Linked DNA regions of Homo sapiens. The protein of the gene in region 3 purifies or fractionates together with the protein of the main gene of each other region. This does not show direct contact. Each region holds a gene or a part of one and is shown on either strand. Other genes may lie near its edges.

The links.
Region 1: the proteins of MTX1 (region 3) and PLXNA4 fractionate together in Homo sapiens (co-fractionation; one large-scale study listed by BioGRID). This does not show direct contact.
Region 2: the proteins of MTX1 (region 3) and GHITM purify together in Homo sapiens (affinity purification with mass spectrometry; 2 studies listed by BioGRID and IntAct, with this or other methods). This does not show direct contact.
Region 4: the proteins of MTX1 (region 3) and ACKR3 purify together in Homo sapiens (co-immunoprecipitation; one large-scale study listed by IntAct). This does not show direct contact.
Region 5: the proteins of MTX1 (region 3) and NECAB1 fractionate together in Homo sapiens (co-fractionation; one large-scale study listed by BioGRID). This does not show direct contact.
Region 6: the proteins of MTX1 (region 3) and SPTAN1 fractionate together in Homo sapiens (co-fractionation; one large-scale study listed by BioGRID). This does not show direct contact.
Region 7: the proteins of MTX1 (region 3) and VSIG1 purify together in Homo sapiens (co-immunoprecipitation; one large-scale study listed by IntAct). This does not show direct contact.

The regions. Positions count from the first base shown.
Region 1 is NC_000007.14:132,503,471-132,506,970, forward strand, and holds part of PLXNA4 (plexin-A4 isoform 1 precursor), read right to left. Parts: intron 1-3,500. UniProt on the Homo sapiens protein: Coreceptor for SEMA3A. Necessary for signaling by class 3 semaphorins and subsequent remodeling of the cytoskeleton. Plays a role in axon guidance in the developing nervous system. Class 3 semaphorins bind to a complex composed of a neuropilin and a plexin.
Region 2 is NC_000010.11:84,149,509-84,151,788, reverse strand, and holds part of GHITM (growth hormone-inducible transmembrane protein), read right to left. Parts: intron 1,735-2,280; coding exon 1,546-1,734; intron 1,081-1,545; coding exon 909-1,080; intron 1-908. UniProt on the Homo sapiens protein: Plays an important role in maintenance of mitochondrial morphology and in mediating either calcium or potassium/proton antiport. Mediates proton-dependent calcium efflux from mitochondrion.
Region 3 is NC_000001.11:155,211,695-155,214,323, forward strand, and holds the end of MTX1 (metaxin-1), read left to right. Parts: intron 1-432; coding exon 433-525; intron 526-690; coding exon 691-873; intron 874-999; coding exon 1,000-1,076; intron 1,077-1,542; coding exon 1,543-1,697; intron 1,698-1,789; coding exon 1,790-2,004; 3' UTR 2,005-2,129; downstream 2,130-2,629. UniProt on the Homo sapiens protein: Involved in transport of proteins into the mitochondrion. Essential for embryonic development.
Region 4 is NC_000002.12:236,572,825-236,576,324, reverse strand, and holds part of ACKR3 (atypical chemokine receptor 3), read right to left. Parts: intron 1-3,500. UniProt on the Homo sapiens protein: Atypical chemokine receptor that controls chemokine levels and localization via high-affinity chemokine binding that is uncoupled from classic ligand-driven signal transduction cascades, resulting instead in chemokine sequestration, degradation, or transcytosis.
Region 5 is NC_000008.11:90,798,275-90,801,774, reverse strand, and holds part of NECAB1 (N-terminal EF-hand calcium-binding protein 1), read right to left. Parts: intron 85-3,500; coding exon 60-84; intron 1-59.
Region 6 is NC_000009.12:128,580,087-128,583,586, reverse strand, and holds part of SPTAN1 (spectrin alpha chain, non-erythrocytic 1), read right to left. Parts: intron 2,666-3,500; coding exon 2,528-2,665; intron 1,806-2,527; coding exon 1,695-1,805; intron 1,109-1,694; coding exon 1,031-1,108; intron 894-1,030; coding exon 738-893; intron 511-737; coding exon 306-510; intron 1-305. UniProt on the Homo sapiens protein: Fodrin, which seems to be involved in secretion, interacts with calmodulin in a calcium-dependent manner and is thus candidate for the calcium-dependent movement of the cytoskeleton at the membrane.
Region 7 is NC_000023.11:108,051,565-108,055,064, reverse strand, and holds part of VSIG1 (V-set and immunoglobulin domain-containing protein 1 isoform 2 precursor), read right to left. Parts: intron 1-3,500.

The DNA.
Region 1 (3,500 bases), on a different chromosome or scaffold from region 3:
GCCAGCTGCCCACTCCAAGTCAGGAGTGTCAGGTCCCCCCCAGAGAAGGACAGACAGCCATCACCTTCTCCTGCATAAGGTCCTGGCACATGACAGAGGCCACAGGTGTGGGCTCCCCAGCCTTACTGTCTGTCACATGCTCTGCAGACAGGGGGCCTCAGGGAGCCTGGATGGCAGCCTTCAAAAGGGGCTGGGGATAGAGATGCACCAGTGATAAGCCACAGAAACTGAGAAATGAAATCACTGCCATTCCCCACATGAGTGCTCATTAGCAAATCAGTCTCAGCTTGACCTCTAGTCCCCTGAGTCCCAAGACAATTGGGGCTCTGACAGACCCTCTAGGACCCCCCCTCATACCCATGTCCTCATGAGATCCTCAGAGTTACTTTCAGATACTAACCCACTTGTTCTGGGAGACCTCTTTCCACCCAGGCTGGAGAAAGCCAGGACAGGGGTAAAGCATGGCTCAGAGGGTGAAGGCGGAAGCTGCTGTTCCCACCCTCCACTGACACCAGAAAGCCCCAGCTGCTTCCCTAGCCTCCACACTTGGTGCCCACTCAGGAATGTACATTTGTGACAGGTTCGTTTATGTCCACAGCAACACATTCCCATGAGGAGGCCACTCCTGGCCAACCAGCCCTCATCTCCAATGGGAGCACAGCCGGCCTTCCCTGATTCACCTGAAGTTGAGGTACAGCTGAGCTCTCTGGGGGCTGCAGGTCAGCAGGTTCTACCCCAACGGCCCAAGACTTTTCCCTCTGTGCGGTCCTCAGGCTCTGGCCTGCCCAGTGCTCTGTGGATGCTCCCTGGCACAAGGGGCCTTGTAGTAGGGGTTCTTCTTCCCATTCCTTCCTATCCCCCAAATGAACACAGCCAAAGCAGGTGCTGGGACCTTGTGAAGGAGGCAGGTGGCCCAGGAGTTTTGCGGATCCCGGCTCTGAGTTCTGGAGGTGTGAGTTCAGGGGGAAGAATGTGGGTCTCAGGATGTGGAAAGGGCTAGAAAAGCCTGAAGAGCCCCATGGGAGGAGCATTCTAATTTAGAGAGCTGGTACAGCCTGGAGCACAGTTGACATTCATTGCTACTCAAATCCCTTCTTCAAGCTTTTAGAGTTGTAACTATGATAAAACCCACAGGGGACCCCTTACCCTACAAAATACAAGTCCTAAAAGCCAACCTCCTGGGCCTTGCCCTGCCCTCTGTCATCTTCCTACAACAGAAACACCACAGGACAGAGGTCATCTGGGACTGAGTTCTCAATTCACAGGGCTCAAGGGAGTGTCAGACTCCGTGACAAGAGAGATCTCCAGAGTTCATCTTGTTCATCCTCCACCTCTAGGCAGGAAGGGAACAAGAAAACCAACCCAACAGCCTTGTAAATGAGTTGAGGAAGAGCTGGGTTTGCAAATGGTGCCATCGGGGCAACACAGAGCCTGGCCTGGCCGATGTCGCACGAAACACGTGTGGTCTGAGCCGACTCCAAAGGAATCGTAACAGGAGGGTGGGAGCAAAGGAACTCGGGTATCTGCCAAATCAAAGGAAACTGATACTGTGCATTAAACACCAGCCTGGCCTTTTTCAGACTGGCTGGAGAGACAGCCCCAGGCCTGTGCAGAGTTTCTGGCCTCCTCCTTTCTACTCTCGGCCCTGAACTTGCCTGTAACTTGAAAGGGCTAATTAAAGCCAAAAGAAAAATCAAAAGCTTGTTATCTTGCTCCATTACTCCCCGTCCCGGCATTAGCCTGTCTTGCAAAGCTGTTTTCCCTCTATTCTCTCCAAGGCTACCACACGGTGTTAGGACCTGCAGCTCTGCAGACTTCCATGATGAACTTGGCTTTTTGTATTGTGGCAGGAAGCAACGGCAGCACGAACACTTGCCCATGGGCAGCCAGACGGACGCCTGCAGCTGATTTTTCTCCCAAGAGCATCGCCCAAAAAGTCAGGGTTTTAAGAAAGTTTTCTACAGGAAACTGTCAGAGATTGCCAACTCCTCTGGTCTCAAAAGAACTTGTTGTTGTTTAGTAAGTGCACAGTATAAACTTGCCGTCTTCTAACATAGGCCTGCATATGTGTGCATGCTCGTGGGGAATTTATTACATGTATGCATGTATGGGTGTCCTGCAGGCAAGGGGGATTCTCTTCAATTGGTGGCTCTGTTACTCACTCCTAAGATGTGTGACCTTGGGCAATTCATTCAGCTTGCTGAGTCTTGAGATACTCAATGCAAAATGAATTTTTAGGCCAAGGCTCTCTAAAGGCCTTCTCAACACCAACATTCTAATACATCTCACCACAGACCCATGTTTGAGTGTCTAATAGACATGTCCAGAACAGCCTCTGTCATTAGCTGCCTTCGTTTGGAAGCAGTCCATACCCCCGTAAGTTCACAGACCTGTCTCATGGACTCTCTTAAGTGGCTCCACTACTGCCCCAAACAAAGGGCTCCAGGGGCATTCCCAAAGGTTGTCACCTGCTAGGAAGACTCAGTAGATAAAGTGGAGTCCCCTCCATTCTCCAGTCTGGCTCTGATTTGTCAACTTTTTGCTGCCCTGCTTGGTCCATAGCACCTCTCCTATTTCCTTTGTGACATCAGGGAACTCCTGGATTTTCAAGACCTCCAAGAAGAGACGACATCTCTTAGTTTCAGCTGGCCCAGTGCCTGGAAGACTTGACAGTGGAAAACAGCTTAAGCCTAATGCCAGGGCACCATCTTTCTCCTCCCTCTTCCCTATCTCCAACCCAAATCCCAAAGACCAGAGTGATGGCCTCTCCACACTCTGGCTGGGGAGGGTGCCAGTCCCCACTGAGATCTGCCTGGCACATAGTTATACTTTATGAAAGGAAATTTACACTTTTTTAAACAACCAAAATACATTTCCTAATATGGAACTCCACCAAAGTTTAAGGAGTCAAGAATCACATCAGTATGGATGCGTACTTCTGTCCAATGGATACATTTTCCTTTCTTCTTCTCCCCAAATTAAAATTAGAGAATTGATGTTCTCAGACTAGGTTCATAATCTTTAAAATGCACAGTTATAAAAGGAAAAGGACAAGAACACTGAAGATGCTGATAGCTGAGCCTTCCAAGTCACCCAAAGAATGATAGTGAAAAAGCAGGACCATTGTGAAGAGGAACAGAGTCAAGCCACAAGAAGGGGGATGCTTTTCATGGTGGGGCACACGTGAGCTAGGCTGTGACAGGCAGGAGTCTGTGTCCCCTGCTTCACCTGGGGTAACCCAGCAAGGCCATACCCACCAGCCATGCGAAGACCCCTAAGCCAACCCTTCTCCTGCTCTCCCTCTGGCTCCCCACAGCTCTCCCATCATCCCATGCTGCTCTCCGGCTGCTTCCTGACTTTCTCACATGTCTCTTCCAAGGCACTGTGCACACAGAAGATGCTCAATAAACACAATTTGTCCCTTCCCATCCCTTTTCTAAGTTAGCTTTGCTTTCTCTATGTGTTCACTGCACTCTTACCTGACTGTGCTCTCATTTTAG
Region 2 (2,280 bases), on a different chromosome or scaffold from region 3:
TCAAATTACTTTAAAAAAATGTGACAGACACAATGAAACTCAAGAAAATTGTTTAAATAAAATAACCCACTTTGGTCGACTCCAAGAAAAAAGAAAAAAACATAATAACAATTAATACCAACTAAAGTTGCATATCTCTGAAACTAGACTCTTTATACTGAAGAGTTTCTAATTTCTAGAAGTATAAAATAGGCTTTTCTATTAAAAATTCCATGTCAATTATATACATTTTCCAATAAATAATACTTGATTAATACATTTCTTCAGTTTTAAAGTCTGCAAAATACACTACCAAAAAAATTAACTGAGCAGTAAGAGCACATTATTTATTGCACCCTGACACTGGCTCACAAAAATAGACAAAATATTCTGATAATGGAATGAATACCTAAGTATTACACTAAGTTGCAATAAAATCAAGAGGTTTTTTTGGATAGTTTACTAAAGAGAGAACAGACAAAACTGCAACAGAAGTAAAACAGGAAATCTGACAAAGCCATTGGTGTGGTTTGAGCTGTGACCCTCCTCTGCCCCCCAACAAAATATAATGAAATCCTAATCCCTGGTACACAGGAAGAGCACCATGTGAAGATGGAGACAGAGACTGGAATGATCCATCTACAAGCCAAGGAATGTCAAGGACTGCCAGCAGTAACAAGAAGCTGAGAGGCAGGGAACAGATTTTCCCTCAGGGCCCTCAGAAGTACAACTCTGCTAACACCTTGATTTTAGATTTCTGGCCTCCAGAACTACAAGAGAATCAAGTTTTGTTTTAAGCCACCCAGTCTGCGATACTTTGTTAACAGTATCCCTAGAAAACTAATACAGCCATAAACCAAAACAGGTCAAATACACACAAGCATCCTTATGTGACAGAGTAACAGTGTTAAATAAAAAGCATTACTTACGAGTTAATGGGATCATATTTTTGAACTCCATACATTGGTGATACTTCTGCACGCTTGATTACTTTCTGGGTATCATACAGAAGGAACATGCTGAAAAGAACTAATCCACCGTACATTGCCACTGAGTAAAGAGTGGCACCAGCCACGGTGGTAGGTGGAAGAAACATAGATCCTGAAATCAAAATGCGAAAACAAGATTTTTTTTAAAAAAGGATTTCCGATAACTGAGTTTATGATTTATATTACTTAAAAAAAAATCTCCTTGGTATACTGTGTAGGTAAGACGACATCTGGGTACATGTACTGTCTAATCTTATTTGCATTAGTTCAAAATCCATGATACTCATTCCTCCAATGAGCCACTTGCCCATTTCACAGGAAGGTTCTTGCATCAGAGCAATATTCATGTTCTCCAGACCAACTTTCCCATTTTAGATGTGTTTGGTAAAGCCAGTAATAATGGTTGACCATGTTGCCATGATTTTTATATGATGTCAGGTAGTAAAATCCAGTCAAATTAGCATAAATCTTTAAAAAAACTTTTAAAATAAATGACTCAATCAATTAGGATATTGGAGTATTTCAGGTTACAGGAAACTATGCACCAAGAATTAAGTGTTAAAACACAGCAGCTTACCCAATGAGGACACAAAGACGAGACCCAGGCCCACTCCCAGGGGTGCACCCATGTTCAGAAACTTTTCACTGGGCGCACACATGGCCACAGTGGAGAGGCCTCCCACAATGCCAGCTGTGTACCATGCAGCTCTGATGAGAAGAGGACCCCCTAATATTGTCAGAGGAGCCACCACTGCACCCATCACACCTGGAGAAAGAGGAAGTGCTCATTAAGTATTTACTAAATAACAAGCAAAAGGAAAATATCACTTCTAACATGCCACTTTATATTATACCTTACTGTTTAAGCACTATGATTCAAAAAGTTCTGCCTTTAGATAATACTACCCCCACCAAATTCTACAGCCCAAATTGGTGACTACTCAAATTCTATATCACAACATTAACACTATTCCTAATCAATCACACTCACAAGCAAACACTAATCTACTTATTTAGTAACCATCAAATTCCATGTAGCTATTTGAATCTGAGCTTACCACTAGTTTCTACAACATTCATATAATAATTGAGATAAACAAGCTTAAAACAAATAACTCAAGGTCAAACCTACTGCTGTCAAAAGGGAAAGCATATGATGATAAACTTAAAATGTGGGAACTTCTAAGACAGACACTGCTGTTTCTTTATGTAATAAGGACTGCTAACAGCTTATAAATAAGTAATTTTAGTTGTCAGATATTTATAAACAATTTCGTAAAAAATTTACCAGTAATTCAACAAAGGTAAATGG
Region 3 (2,629 bases):
GAGTGTGAGGATGGCTTTCTCTGGTTCCTGAGGCATGGACCGAGTCCTAGCCTGCATCTGAGCTCCGTTGTGCTAGCTTTGTGGTGTCTGGGTCGGGGAAGTTACTGTTAGAAAGTTGCCGTCAGCGGGCGTTGTTCCAGCTTTCCATGGAAATTCTGGGAGCTGCTCCTAGTTTGCGGCGGAGCCTTCCTTCCTTCCCTGCATTGGGCGCTGGACCTTCACGGCCAGGAGGCTCCAAGGCCCAGGCTTTTCGCCAACAGCAACAGGCTACTGGCTGGGCCCAGGCAAGGGGGCCTTGGCAGGAAAAGTTCCTTGCTGTACCTCCACTGCACTCAGAGGCCAGTGAGGGGGGTACCAGACAGGACTCCTTCCTCCCTGGTGAAGTGCCCTTGCAGCTCCCTAGTGTCCACGCCATGGATATTTCCTCCACAGAAGTACAATGCTGATTATGATCTGTCAGCTCGGCAAGGGGCAGACACCCTGGCCTTCATGTCTCTCCTGGAGGAGAAGTTGCTCCCGGTGCTGGTGAGTGTGCCCAGACCTCCCAGCATCCATGGCCAGCCGGGGAGGGTTCGGGAACACACAGACCCACACACAGGCTCAGGAAAGCATGGGGGTCAGAAGCCCACCTTGAATCAGACAGGTGCACTGGCTCAGACCTACCTGTTTCTTCCTGCCCACCCAATCCAGGTACATACTTTTTGGATAGACACCAAGAACTACGTGGAAGTGACCCGGAAGTGGTATGCAGAGGCTATGCCCTTTCCCCTCAACTTCTTCCTGCCTGGCCGCATGCAGCGGCAGTACATGGAACGGCTACAGCTGCTGACTGGGGAGCACAGGCCTGAGGACGAGGAAGAGCTGGAGAAGGAGGTAGCTCTGAGACCGGGGGCTATTGTATGAGATGAGCCCCAAGGATGCTGGCCAGGAATGGGAGTGCTTAGGTGGGGAGGTGGCACTGTTCCCACAGCTGCAAGCCTACCTGTGTCGCCCCTACAGCTGTACCGAGAGGCTCGGGAGTGTCTGACCCTGCTCTCTCAGCGCCTGGGCTCTCAAAAGTTCTTCTTTGGAGATGCGTGAGTCTGACTCCAAGAGGGTAATGGGTGGCTTGGAAGAAGATACAGGTTCAGATGGAGCAGCTGGAGCTGGGGCTGGGGCTGGGGCTGGCTCAGGCTCTGGATAGGAGGTCCCTGGGATAGAAACTGGCCCTAGTGACAGTGTGACTGTGTGGGGGCCAGAGCCTTCTCAGAGGTACAAAAGGGTAGGGTGGGAGGGCAGCCAGGCACAGGAGGGGCCTGAAGAGCTGTGGGGCACTGAATGTGCCCTTTATGCAGCCCTGGGATAGAGCCCTATTCAGGGCCAGGCTGGCGCCACCTGGGGATCTCTCCCCATACCAGGTCTAGAACTGTGTGTCCTGTCCTTCCCTGGTGGCCGCCTGCTGCCCAGAGCCCACCTCCCAAGGCTGACTCTTCCTCCAGCTCCATCTTTACCCCTTCTACCCCAGTGGTTCTCCTCCATCCCACCCTTCTCTCTCTGCTCCAGCCCTGCCTCCTTGGACGCCTTCGTCTTCAGCTACTTGGCCCTGCTGCTGCAGGCAAAGCTGCCCAGTGGGAAGCTGCAGGTCCACCTGCGTGGGCTGCACAACCTCTGTGCCTATTGTACCCACATTCTCAGTCTCTACTTCCCCTGGGATGGAGGTAAGGGGCAGATGGGAGGGGCAGCCCTGGGGAGAGTGGGCAGGGATCCAAGAACTAGTTCTCCTAACACACCTTCCTTCCTTGACCCTCAGCTGAGGTACCACCGCAACGCCAGACACCAGCAGGCCCAGAGACTGAGGAGGAGCCATACCGGCGCCGGAACCAGATCCTATCTGTGCTGGCAGGACTGGCAGCCATGGTGGGCTACGCCTTGCTCAGCGGCATTGTCTCCATCCAGCGGGCAACGCCTGCTCGGGCCCCAGGCACCCGGACCCTGGGCATGGCTGAGGAGGATGAAGAGGAATGATTTGTCCTCACGCTCCCAAGACTGGTTTTTCTACTCTCATGCATTCCAGAGGCCCCCGTGCCTCCTCGTTGTTGGTACAGCCGGACACGGGGTGCTGCCACCCAGAATAAAGCCACTCACACTGACTGGGCTCAAACATTTTCTCCTTTAAGAGCTGCCATTTTTCCTGGCTGGTGCCATAGGAATCATCTGGGTGCCTGGGCACACCCGCTGCTGCTTTAAGGCTTCCGCCCTGATGCTGACACTGCTGCTCCACGGGCCCAGTTCTGCATCTCCAGGAAAGACAAACAGTCTCCAGTTTTGGGCCCAGCTTTCCTAGTCTCTTCTTTTCCTTACCCTCAGCCCTGATCTTGTGTTTGTACGGACAGTGAGCTCACCCTAGGCCTGGACCCAGGCCCAGTTTCCAAAGCAAGCAGCACACAGCGCATGTTCACATAAGCATGGGGGCTGGGGGGACACTGGGGCTTACTGATCTTTTTCTAGGGGCCTCCAGCCCCTGGCACCACCTAGAGGGGAAAGTGAGTCACCCAAACCATTGCCCCTGGGCTTACGTCGCTGTAAGCTCACACTGGCCCTGCTGTGCCCTCTTTAGTCACAGACAGCGTGTGAGCTGACTCTGTCCCTT
Region 4 (3,500 bases), on a different chromosome or scaffold from region 3:
CTGGATGGGCCAGCCCTCGGGTCCTTGTATACATTCTTAATGCCTCTCAGCCTGTGCGGGGTCTGTTTACGCTGGGAAGTTGGGAAGGCCGATAGCCACAGGGCCTGAAGGAGACATCCACTTAGACCAGTCACCCTCTGCTGGAATCAACCAGCAATTCCATTCCCGCTTGAGGCCAGGGTCTAAGAAACATGTCTGGGTGTGAATCAAACCTGCCCACTGCCTGCGTCTCTAGGGCCTCAGTGCCCATGCCAGGGCAGGCAGGGGAATGAGACCCACTTCTGACACTTAGGTTCTAAGGTTTCTGCATAAAAGATTCCAGGGGGAAGGAAGGGGAGGGGGTGCAGAACAAAAGACGTTTCTTTCCAGTTCTATGATGATACAAATTCATACGTTTCTCTCCTCAAAATATTCATGTGTCTCCAAATGTACACAAGATGTTTTTTAAAGCAGTATTTATTTACGAGCAAACACTGGAGACAACGTAAATGTCTTTCAACAAAGGCACGACTCAGTAAAGCCTGGTGTCTCCGCCATCTGGAATATAATACAGCTGTGAGAGGGAGGCCTCCCTTCATGCACAGGGAGAGTTACGACATGCTGTTCAGTGAAAGACAATACGCAGACACACGCACACACAGCACAACCCCAGAAACGCACACACAGCACAACCCCAGACACGCACACACAGCACAACCCCAGACACACACACACACAGAGCACAACCCCAGACACACGCACACACAGCACAACCCCAGACACACACACACACACAGCACAACCCCAGACACACGCACACACAGCACAACCCCAGACACACACACACACAGCACAACCCCAGACACACGCACACACAGCACAACCCCAGACACACGCACACACAGCACAACCCCAGACACACACACACACACAGCACAACCCCAGACACACGCACACACAGCACAACCCCAGCTATGCAGAAAGAAACACAAAAATTACATTTGTGTATTTTTATATGTAAATACATGTGCACGAAGGCATAGAAAAAGACCTGCAGTAAGTATAAAACTTGGGGCTGGGAAGGTAGGAGGAGGGAACAAAAGGAGACTTGTAGTTTTTACTCTATAAACTTCTGTGTTATTTGAAATTTGACATCAAGAATTATGTAAATTTTCATAGAGGGAGGAATGGTCCACAGAACAATCGAGGTTCATGTTGCATTTTCCTGGACCACAGAGACCCAAGGGAGAACAAAAAGCAGTGAACGTCAGCTTTCATTCCCTTTTTCCCAGCGCTTGCTCTGTTTTATCTCATTCATTCCTTCGTACAGGGGTCACCTTTTTAGCGGCCCTGTCGCACGTTGCAGTGACAGGGAGAGAACTTTCCCGTGGCCGGCGGTGGGCAAGCACCTGTCCAGCCCTCCATCCCTGCCAGCCTATGGCCTGCAAAGGGACTCCTCTGTCACTCACAGCCCAGATGGTACTGGGGCTCCTCTTGTCAATTGCAGGACTTTCTCGGAGATGCACCTCTCGTTTCTGGGATGTTTTATTCATCAACCAAGTATCCTTGACAACGACCGTGCTGCAGCAAGCAGCCTGGGGTATTTAGCCACATCCAAATGGTCTCCCTGAGCTCACTCTGCAAGCTGAGGGTGAAGCCGGAATTACAGGTACTCAGGTTTAGAGCCTTCATGGGTGGTGGCTGAGTATGCAATCAGCATGTCCTCACGCTGGTTAGTTCCTTCCAGAGAATGCCACGTGTTCAGGCACCTGGCCAGTGTCCCTCCAAACTCCCTTCCACATGTTTGCAGTCTCCAACCACAGACTCTTCCCAACTGATGCCCTCTGCCCTTCTGATTCTCCCACCTTCTCCTGGCCCCACACTGCACATCTCTATTCTGGAATGGCTTTTGTACCATCACGTTGTTCAGGTTTCTTGCCCCTCCACCTCATTCCTACCAGGCCCCGCACCCCCCACCAAGTCTTCTGTAACTTTGTGTAGCTACAGCTATACAGCTATACAGCTACAGCTGCACATAGTAGGTACTCAATGAGCCAGCAGTTAATCGTGCCCCACCAAGACCAGCGACTGTGGCCAGCAGCGGAGACGGGCGTCCAGGAGAGACTTTTCTGAAATCGTCACCGAGCTGGTGTTGACGGACTGAGCCTCTTGTTCCAGGAGGCACTGCTCTGGGGCACGTGAGGACAACAAATCAGAAACATCTCCCCCCAACCCCCGAGACCCCGCCGGCTAATTGGGAAGGCACGCAGGCCCATCACCCCCCAGGCATGAGCAAGGTGGTGCATGCCCCTTCAGCAGGAAAATGAGGGGTTTCTACTCTGGTGGCTTATGGGGGACTTCAAGGAGGTAGGGGTGATCAAGGATGTTCCAGGAAGGCACAGCCATGGGTAGAGTCACCCAGCCTGGCTGAGGCAAGGACTCTCCACGAAGAGCAAATGGAGGTAAGAGTTGGGCCTTAAAGGGTGGGCAAGGAATATGACCAGGGCTTGTCCATGCAGGAGCCAGGACAGTCTAGAGCAAGGCCATGGCTTTGGAGCAGAGGAGGCTTTGAGAATGGAAGTGATACGAACCCCACAGGCAGCTTTGCAGTGGGGTGGTCTGGTAGCTGGGTGCAGACCAGGCTGCTACACACACATCACTCCTCTACAGTGGTATAGATAAGATAACTCAGGCCAGGCCTGGGGCCCCGGGACCAGCTCCGAAAAGGGGGACCCTCTGGCCATCTGGGCCCTGCAGGACTTCTGCCTCCTTCACTGGCTTTCTGCAGTGTGAGACCTGTGTCCTACAAGGGAATTTCATGAAGAAACTTGGTATTGTCCCAGACAAGAGCTGGGACAGTGGCCCTCACTGTTTGCACACCTGGAAACTGAGGCCAGGCCGGGTGAAGAGACTGGGTTATGGTGCGCTTGTGGCTAAGAACAGAGTTCTCTTCCCCTTTCCAACATCTCCAGGGACTCTCCAGCGGGAATCATGCTACAAAAGCAAACGCTCTGGTCTCCTTGAGCAGATAACACCTCTTCCACCAGGCCAGCCCCGCTTACGCTGAGCCTGCAAGTTAGATCAGGAGAATCCACACTACCTCTGAAGAACCATTAGGCAACTGCGCATCATTGAGTGGGGTGTGTGTGTGTGTGCATGTGTGTGTGTCTGTGTGTCTGTGTGTTTTTAACCAATGCTACATCGAATCTATGGGGAAACCAACCAAGTAACCTAGGGGAGCTTTGGCCCAGGCAGACTCTCTGTGACTATCTGCTAGGGCTGATAGCAGAATGGGTAGCTGTCTGTCCCCTCTGCTGCCAGCAAATGGAAAACAGTCTTGACTACACATTCACTAGTGACCGTGAGTGATCTTATTTTATGCAAGTACATAACTGCTTTGAATTACTTGAGAACGCAAAAAATAATAACTACAGAAAACTCTATATCCTGATTCAGATACAGTCCACCTCTTCCCAGGGTCCTTAGACATACTTCACATGAACACGTGGGACACCCTCGTC
Region 5 (3,500 bases), on a different chromosome or scaffold from region 3:
ATAAGGTAATATAAAATGTAAGAGATTAATAAATAGATACTGTAGATTTTTGGTCTTACCATTTTTGTCTGCTCTCCTCAGTATCTGGAAAGGAAAAAGGAAAAAATTTTATCAGCATTTTAGATAAATATTGCAACGAACGTTACACTTACACATAATTTATTCATAATTAAATAAAATACATTCTAATTTTAAGTAAGCGTTTCCCAATTGAGATCTTTCTTTATAATATCTAAAACCTGAAAATGACCCAAATGTCCATGGATAAACAAACCGTGAATGAACAAACCAACTGTGGTATAGCCATACAATAGAATACTACTGAGCAATAAAAATGAATGAGCTATTTATACACACAACAACTTGGATAGAACCAAAAATAACTAGGCTGAGTAGAAAACCTAGATGCAAAATAATACCTACTTATAATTCCATTTATATAAAATTCTTAAAAATGCAAACTAATCTATAGGGACAGAAAACAGATTAAGCTTCCTAGGAATGGGCAGGGCAGGGGAGGGTGGATTACAAGAGGATGTAAGAAAACTTTTGCAGGTGATAGAGATAGTTATTATCTTGAATGTGGTAATGGTTTCATATATGTTAAAACTCATCAAGTTTACACTTTACATATGTGCACATTAATGTAAGTCAATCATACCTCAATAAAACTGGGATTCAACAAAACATAAAAGAAAAATAATACATCATGGGTAAAGAGTAACCACATGTCTATGCTATATCTACTTTATTTATACTTTATTAATCATATTATCTTGGACGTATTTTAAATTGTCTTGATGTATAAGAACTATTTGGCCATCCGGTATCCATTACTCTTTAGTAATGATTTCTAATGTTCTTCTGGAAAGCCTACATTTCCTACATGCTTGGCCTAGGTGCTCCAGTGTTGGGCAGGGCACTTATGTCTGACAAACACGGTGTCATATCCCTCTGGTCACGGTGACTGCTCAGGGATGAGCACATTAGGGCCAGTGAATGACAGGTCATGGTTTTGCCTGAGTGGTTAGGAGAGAGACATACTCTTCTTTCTGCTGACTTTGAACCTAGGAATATATAGGCAATGCACTGCTGTCATTCGTTTTGTTATTGGATATATTGTAGGTTGAATTGTGTCCTCCAAAACCAAATGTTGAAATCCTAATGCTCAGTATCCACGAATGTAACTTTATCTGGAAATAGGGGTTTGGGAGGAAAAGACTTTGATAAAATCCAACCTTCCTTCATGATAAAAACTCTGAACAAACTAGGCATTGAAGGAACATACCTCAAAATAATAAGAGCCATCTATGCCAAACCCACAGCCAACATCACACTAAACAGGCAAAAGCTGGAAGCATCTCCTTGAATGCTAGAACTAGAACTGGAACTGGAACAAGACAAGGACGCCCACTCTCACCACTCCTATTCAACATAGTACTGGAAGTCCTTGCCAGAGCAATCAGGCAAGAGAAAGAAATAAAAGGCATCCAAATAGCAAAATAAGAAGCCAAATGGTCTCTCTTCACTGACGATATAATCTTATACCTAGAAAACTCAAAGACTCCACCAAAAGCCTCCTGGGACTGATAAACGACTTCAATAAAGTTTCAGGATATAAAATAAAGGTACAAAACTCAGTAGCATATCTATGCAGCAATAGCATTCAATCTGAGAGACAAATCAAGAATGCAATCCCATTTACAATAGCTACACAAAAAATAAAATACCTAGGAATACATTTAACCAAAGAAGTGAAAGACTTCCACAAGGAGAACTACAAAACACTGCTGAAAGAAATCATAGATGACAGAAACAAATGGGGAAACATTCCATGCTCAAGAATTGGAAGAATCAATATTGTTAAAATGGCCATACTACCCAAAGCAATGTATACATTCAATACTATTCCTATCAAACTACCAATGTCATTTTTTACAGAATTAGAAAAAACTGTTCTAAAATTCATATGGAACCAAAATGGAGCCTGAATAGCCAAAGCAATTCTAAACAAAAAGAACAAAGCTGGAAGCATCACATTACTTGACTTCAAACTATACAGTAAGGCTACAGTAGACAAAACAGCATGGTACTGGTACAAAAAACAGATACAAAAATGAAACAGAATAGAGAACCCAGCAATAAAGCTGTACACTTACAGCCAGCTGATCTTCAACAAAATCAACAAAAATAAATAATGGGGAAAGGATTCCCTATTCAATAAATGGTGCTGGGATAGCTAGTAGGTCATATGCAGAAGAATGAAACTGGAGCACTATCTAATACTATAGACAAAAATTAACTCAAGATGGATTAAAAATTTCGATATAAGACCTCACACTATAAAAATCCTATAAGAAAACCTAGAAAATATCATTCTTGACATTGAGAAAAAATTGGCCTTGAGAAAAAAGTTATAACTAAGTTCTCAAAAGGAATTGCAACAAAAACAAAAATTGACAAGTGGGACCTAATTAAACTAAAGAGCTGGAGCACAGGAAAATGAACTATCAACAGAGTAAACAGAGAATCTAAAGAATGGGAGAAAATATTCACCAACTATGTATTCAACATATTACTAATATACAGAATCTGTAAAAATTATATTTCAAAAAACAAAAAAGAACCCCATTAAGAAGTGGGCAAAAGACATGAACAGACACTTCTCAAAAGAAGACATACAAGTGGCCAACAAACATACGAAAAAATGCTCAACATCACTAATCATCAGAGAAATGCAAATCAAAACCACAATATGCTATCATCTCACACCAGTCAGAATGGCTATTATCAGAAAGTCAAAAAAAACACAACCACATTCTGGAGCTGCTGCAGAGAAAAGGGAATGCCTATATACAGTTGGTGGGGATGTAAATTAGTCTAGCCTATGGAAAGCAGTTTGGAGATTTCTCAGAGAACTTAAAACAGAACTACCATTTGACTCTGCAATCCCGTTACTGAGTATATATTCAAAAGTAAATAAATCATTGTACCAAAAAGACACATGGCACTCGTATATTCATTGCAGCATTATTCACAATAGCAAAAATACTAAATCAACTTAAGTGCCCATCAGTGGTCAATTGGATAAAGAAAATGTGGTACATATACATCATGGAATACTACACAGCCATAAAAAAGAACAAGATAATGTCCTTTGCAGTGACATGGATGCAACTGGAGGCCATTATCCTGAGTGAATTAATGCAGAAGCAGAAAACCAAACACTGCATATTCTCACTTATAAGTGGGAGCTAAACATTGGGTACACATGAACATAAAGATGGCAGCAACATACACTGGGGACTAATAGAGGGAAGAGGGAGGTTGGGGAGAAGAGTTGAAACACTAACTGTTGAGTATTATGCTCACTACCTGGGTGATGGAATCATTTGTACCCCAAATCTCGCCATCATGTGATACACCCACGTAACAAACCTGCACATATTCCTCCTGAATCTAAAATAAAACTTTAAGTTATAAAAAGAAAAGAAATAGGG
Region 6 (3,500 bases), on a different chromosome or scaffold from region 3:
GAGATATAAGGACACTGGAGAATTAGTAAATGCCCTTGGCTCTCAGCTGAACTTTGATTTTCAGCAATGAGGCCCAATTCAGTTCCTTCTCACTCAGACTCCCTCACCAACCAGTATGCTCGACCACATTTACCAAATTATTATCAAGAACTTAAGCCAAGTAATTCCTACACAGGAAATTATCCCTAACGCCAAAGTCATCCACCTCACCTTTCTTGGGGGGTATATGTCCCTAAAATACTTAATAGAAAGGGGTATTTAGTTCCCCAAACATGCATGTCACAATTCAATGGAACATCTCTTACCTTTCAGTTCAGTGGCCTCTAGCAGTTTCTTCCACAAACTGATCACCTCATTCATACGAGCTGCCACTTCATCCTTGGCATAGTGGTTGACATCAATCAGCTTTTGGCCAGCTTTCTCCAAGGCATCAATTCGGCTCTGGTTTGCTGAGAGCTCAGCCTCAAAAGCCTGATGCTTCTGTACTTTTCCTTGTAGGTTGGATGGATCCTGTGAATAAAAGAAGGGGGTTCTTTCTATCTTGAACCTGAGAACGTCAAGTTCCCTTGCACTACCTTCATACTTATCTTTATGGAGGAATGTATAAAACAGTTGGCTTACATTAAGTAGTGGGGTTTCTGGAATCCCTTATTTCGTCCTTTAGCTACAATTTATTTGTGAGAGCTGTGTTTAGCTTACTAATCGAGTGCTACATGGCAACACTAACAGTACATTACTTTATAAGCTTCATCTGTGGCAGTTTTCATCTTCTCATTGACCCAACTCTTGAGCTCATCAGAATCACGGAAAAACTGCTGCAGATGGAAAGAATCGGCTAGCTGGGCCCGGCGACGCATGGCTCTCTCGTGAAGGGCATTGCGGCGGCTCAACAGCTGAAAGACAAGGATCCCCTGTGAGTCTCTAGTGTTCACTCCCAAAGGGATATCCAGTTGAAGAGACTTAACTGGAACATCTTAGAAGAGACATTCATGTACCAAAAAGGAGGAGCATGAAGAACCTACAAACTTACAGCATCTCGGCGAGTGGCCACATCTTCCATTGCATAGTGGTTGTTCTGAATTAGCTTGGTTGCAAATTCATCTAATGCCTAGGAAGGAAGATAAGAGTTCTTCATTGGTAAGCACACTAGTCCCAAGCTTGGCCTCTGGAGAAAAGTAACTGCTGAACAGATCATAAAACACACCAAACTTTAACATAGGTCAAGGTTTTCACCCAAAGGTTGGTGATGACATTTTTTCTCATAACTTTTGAGATTTTGCTTGATGTCACCAGTCAGATATCATAAGACTGCACTACCTCCATTCAAGACTGGAGACATTAGTTGTGGCACGATCTCCTGGCAGGGGTCAAACACAGGTTAACAGCTTTCCAAATTCTTATTTCTAAGATGTATTTTCAATGGGAAGAGTACCTCTTAATATTAACCCTGACCTACTTTTAATGAAGGGTACAAACTTAAAGAAGTTTGGAGGTTTCCATTAAGTAAATCATTTTTCCATAAAGTTGTATTATGTCTTCAACGAGATAGCATGTCATCCTTGTGAAAGTTTAAGCACCCACAGGAGTACTCTGCATATGAATCTTTCATCAAATCTGTTTGGAATCCTTCCAGGGAAAAAGACTCTGGCTTACTATAAGGGTCATTTGAAAGCACTGACAAGAAGGGGTCTTACTGTAATCTTTTCCTCCTGGGCACTAAGGGATTTCTCAAAGTCTTCGTGCTTCTTAAGAAGCGCTTCCACACTATCCAAGGAATCTCCCAAGTCTTCATTCAACAGGAACGCCTTGCCAAAGGAAACAAAGTGTTCAGAATAATGTCCTATTCCTTTGATCTTCTAAGACTGTGAAGCAAAGGGTATTTTGGCCAAAATATAAAAAGAAGGAAAGAGATTTTATGGCTGCTAAACTTCTAAGATCTCTTCTAGGAAGTCTAAAGTCCTTTTGGATTTTCTTAAAATCAATCCAGCCATATCATGAAATCCTATTCCACATTCTATTGAAACTTCTCTTACATAGTTTTTGTTGCTTCTATTAGATTCAGATGTTACATAATGCTAAGGTTTGTTTTTTTTGTTTGTTTTTTTTTTTTTTGTGAGACAGGATCTCGGTCTGTTGCACAGGCTAGAGTGCGGTGGTACGATCATAGCTTGCTGCAGCCTTGAGCTCCTGGGCTCAAGGGATACTCCCATCTCAGCCTCCCAAAGTGCTGGGATTACAGCAGGGAGCCACTGCACCCAGCAATGCTAAGTTCTAAGAAAAAAATCTCTTTAATAAAACATTTTACATCACACTAATCTGAAAAGCTGGGGCCTTTTCTGAAGGCCTTGCAATCTCAGCAGGGAGAGATGCTGGCAGAGCTGAGAGAAGCTTGCTCAATTCCCCCTCTTCAATGGATTCAGAACTAACATGGTACTGATGTCCTAAAACAAAACAAGCACACTACCCGAGGAGGCAAAACACAGGCCCTTCTTCTCCCACCACTGGCAAGGCTTTGCTCACAGATTACCTCCTGCTTGCTCATCCAGTTGTCCACCTGCTCAGTGTCCCGGTAGAAGAGCTGCAGGTCCATGCACTGCTCGTACTGCTGCCTGCGCAGCTCCCACAGCTCCAGCAGCGCCGCTCTCTCCTCGGAAAGGACGGTCAGCTTGGGGGCATAGGAGACATGGTCAGGGAGATGAGGTCAGCCCCAATGCCTCCGAGGCAGACAGAACAGCTATCCTGGAATTCCTAATCCTAGTGCTAATCTTCAGGCCTTTTTTCCGATTTGCAAAAGGGGAAAAACAACATTCACTTGTATGTGCATGTTCAATATAAAAGGGATGGCCTGTTTTAATTAATCTAGAATTAATTTATTGCCAAATGATCACAAATGACTTTAGGTAAAAACAGTAAGTAAACTCCCAGGTAGAAGAAATAGGGCATCCATTTAAAAGTGAGGCAGTATAAATGGAGTTTAATGGAGTATAAATGGAGTAGGGACTCTCCACTAAGAAATGTCAACTGAGTGGGTGCTCCATAACATATGGAAAATAAATTCAGAAACTCCCTAGACTTTAGGCTCCGAAGCTACTAATGACAAGTCTTTGAAATGTCTTTACTCTATGTAATACTAAAAAACATATAAATCATATAAATCATTATTTATCTAATGTTCCTAGGCAATTTTATACTCGAAGATACTTCAAAACTTATATACATATGTGTATATATATACACATATAAAAAAAGTAAAATAAAATATGTATATATATACATATTTTATTTTTATTTATTTATTTTTTTTTAGAGACAGGGTCTCACTCTGTCACTCAAGCCAGAGTGCAGTGGTGCAAATCATAACTCATTATAACCTTGAACTCAAGTAGCTCGGACTATAGGAATGTGCCACCATGTCTGGCTAATTTATTAATTTTTTGTCCAGATGGGGGTCTCACTATGTTGTTCAGGATGGTCTCCCATTCCTGGCCTCAAGCAATCCT
Region 7 (3,500 bases), on a different chromosome or scaffold from region 3:
TAGAAGTTTGTCAGTTTTACTGATTTTTTTTTCAGAAAAGCAAATTTTTGTGTTATTAATTTTTCCCTATAGTTTTTCTATTTCAAATTCATTGATTTCAGCTCTTTATTATTCCCTTCCTTCTGCTTGCTTTGGGTTTATTTTGGTCTTCTTTTCTAGATCCTTGATGTAGAAATTTAGGTTATTGACTTAAGACCTTCCTTTATTTCCAATGTAAACATTTAGTGTTAGAAATTTCTCTCTCAGAATTGCTTTATCTACATGGTACATATTTCAATATGTTGTGTTTTCATTTGCATTCAGTTCTACGCATTTTTAAAAAAATTCCTTTTGAGATTTCCTCTTTGATCCACGGATTATTTAGAACAGTGTTGTTTAATTTCCACGTGTTTAGATACTTTTCTGCTACAGATTTCTAGTTTCATTGCATTGTAGTCAGAGAATATACTCTGTATGATTTCAATTATTTTAAATTTGTTTAGGTTTGTTTTACGGCCAAGCACATTATCTATCTTGGTGAATGTTCTGTAGGTGCCAAAAAAAAGTGTGTTCTGCTGTTGTTGGGTGGAGTTTTCTATACAAAGAGATATAATTTAAAACCACTATGGAAAAACCAATATAAAATCGTAAAAATATTCAACTGGATCCTGTTAATTGACTGTCTTTTTCAGATCTTCCCTATATTTACTGATGTTCTGTCTAGTAGATTTATCAATTTCTGAGAGGGGGTATTGAATTTCCCAACTATAATTGTGGATTTGTCTCTTTCTTCTTTTAGCTTGATCAGTTTTTGTTCATGAATTTTGAGACATAGTTGTTTGGTGTGTACCCATTAAGGATCATTGTATCCTCCTGCTGGATTGATCCATTTATCATTAGGTAATGTCTCTGTTTATCTCTTTTAACTTTCTTTGCTCTGAAGACTATTTTATCAGATATTAATGAAGCTTCTCCAGATTTTTGAAAAATTAATACTTATGTGGTACATCTTTTTCTATATTTTTACTTGCAATCTTCCTATGTCATCAAATTTAATGTGAGTTTCTTGTGAATAGCATATAGAGTAGTTCCCCCTTATTCCAGGGAGATATATTCCAAGACCCCCAGTGGATGCCTGAAACCATGGATAGTACTGAACTCTATGTATACTATATATATTTTTCCCCCATACACACAAACCTATGATAAAGTTTAATTTATAAATTAGGCACAGTAAGAGATTAACAATGATAACTACTAATAAATAGAACAATTATACCAATGTACTGGAGTAAAAATTATGTGATTGTGTTCACACACTCACACTCTTTCTCACAAAATATCTTATTATACTGTACTATGGGTAACTGAAACCTCAGAAAGTAAAACCACAGATAAAAGGGGACTACTGTAGTGGTATTCGCATTCAATATAATTATTTAATGTAATTATTGATATATTATTCTTGTTTGCTATTTTATTATTTGTTTTTTGTTTGTTCCCTTTAGTTCTTATTCTTCTGTTTCCCTTTTCTTGCTTTTCTGATAGTTACTTGAGCATTTTTTATGATTCCATCTTGACTTATTCATAGTGTTTTAAAATATATATCTTTGTAGAGTTTTCCCAGTGGTTTCTCTGGGTATTCAACATTCATGTGTGAGTCATAACAGTCTACTCATATCAATATTTTACCACTTTGATTGAAGTGTATAAACCTCACTTCCATTTAGTTTCCTTTACCTTCCCCACTTTTAAATATCATTGTCTAGAGTATAAAATGGTGTTATAATTTTGCTTCAATTATCAAATATGATTTATAGAACTCATGAGTTAAAAGATAGTCTACTTTATGTACTTACATTTCTGCTCTTTCTGTTGTCCTTTCATCCTTCCTGATTGCTCTTTATCATTTATTCTCTGTTTGAAGAAATCCCTTTAGCTATTTTTTAACAGTATGTCTGCTAGCAACAAATCTTTTTGTTTTCCTTCAACTGAGAATTTAATTATTTCCCCTTAATTCCTGAAGGATAGTTTCACCAGATATGGATTCTATTTTCTGTCATCTCTGCTCTTCTATTGAGTCCATCAGCCAGTTTTTCATTTTTGTTATTTTATTTTACAGTTCTATAATTTATATTTGTTTTTTGGGGGGAGGGGACAAACAAGCCAGTTTTATTCAAAAAATAATTCCAAGGGGGAAAAAAGAAAACTGAGAAAGAGCCTATAGATTGTAAGGGTCTTTAGAAAAATAGTAGATAATTGCAAAGTATGTATTTTTTAAATTCTTGTTTTTAACTTAATTTTTATTTTAATTAATTAACAAATAATTATTGCATATATTTATGGGATACAATGTGATATTTTAATATATGCATACACTGTGGAATAATTACATCGAGCTAATTAACATATCCATCACCTCACGTAATTTATCCTTTTTTTTGTTTTTTGTTCTGTTTTGTTTTGTTTTCAGACAGGGTCTCACTCTGTCACCCAGGTTGGAGTGCAGTAGTGTGATCTCGGCTCACGGCAACCTCTGCCTCCCAGGCTTAAGCAATTCTCCCATCTCAGCATCCCGAGTAGCTAGGACCACAGGCACATGCCACCATGCCCAGCTAATTTTGTGTGTGTGTGTGTGTGTGTATTTTTGGTAGAAATAGGGTTTCACCACGTGGCCCAGGCTCTTCTCGAAATCCTGAGCTCAAGTGATCCACCTTCCTTGGCCTCCCAAAGTGGCGGGATTACAGGCATGAGCCACCACATCTGGCCTACCTATCTTTTGTTTCGTTTTGTTTTTTTCATAGCAGGAACATTTAAAATCTATTATTTTTTTGAATACTTTTTTGGGGAACAGGTGATGTTTGGTTACGTGGATAAGTTCATTAGTGGTGATTTCTGAGATTTTGGTGCCCCCATTACCCGAACAGTGTACACTGTACCCAATGTGTAGACTAAAATCTTATGCTTTTAGCAGTTTTGAAATGCACATACATTATTATCAACTATGGTGAGCATGCTGCAAAATAGGTCTTAAAAACTTATTCCTCTTGTCTAACTGGAACTTTGTACCCTTTGGTCAACTTCTCCCCATTTCCCACTCCCTCCAAGCCACAGTCCCTGGTAACCATTCTACTCTAATTCTGAGTTCAACTCTTTTAGATCTCACATATAAGTGAGATTATGTGGTGTTTGTCTTTCTGTGTCTGGCTTGCTTCACTTAGCATAATGTCCCCCAGGTTCATTCATGCTGTAGCAAATGACAGAATTTCCTTCTTTCTTATATTTTTATAACTTCTTTTTCTTTTCTGCAAGTTTCCTTTTTTTTCTTTATTTGTTTTAAGATAATGTTAATTGATTGTTGAGGCATTTTTATGATGGCTACTTTGAAATCCTTGTCAGATAATTCCAACATCGAACTCATCTTAATGTTGGCAGTAGTTGCCTTTTCTCAGTCAAGTTGTGATTTACTTGATTCTTGGTATGACAGATGATTTTTGATTGAACATTTTGTCTACTATGTT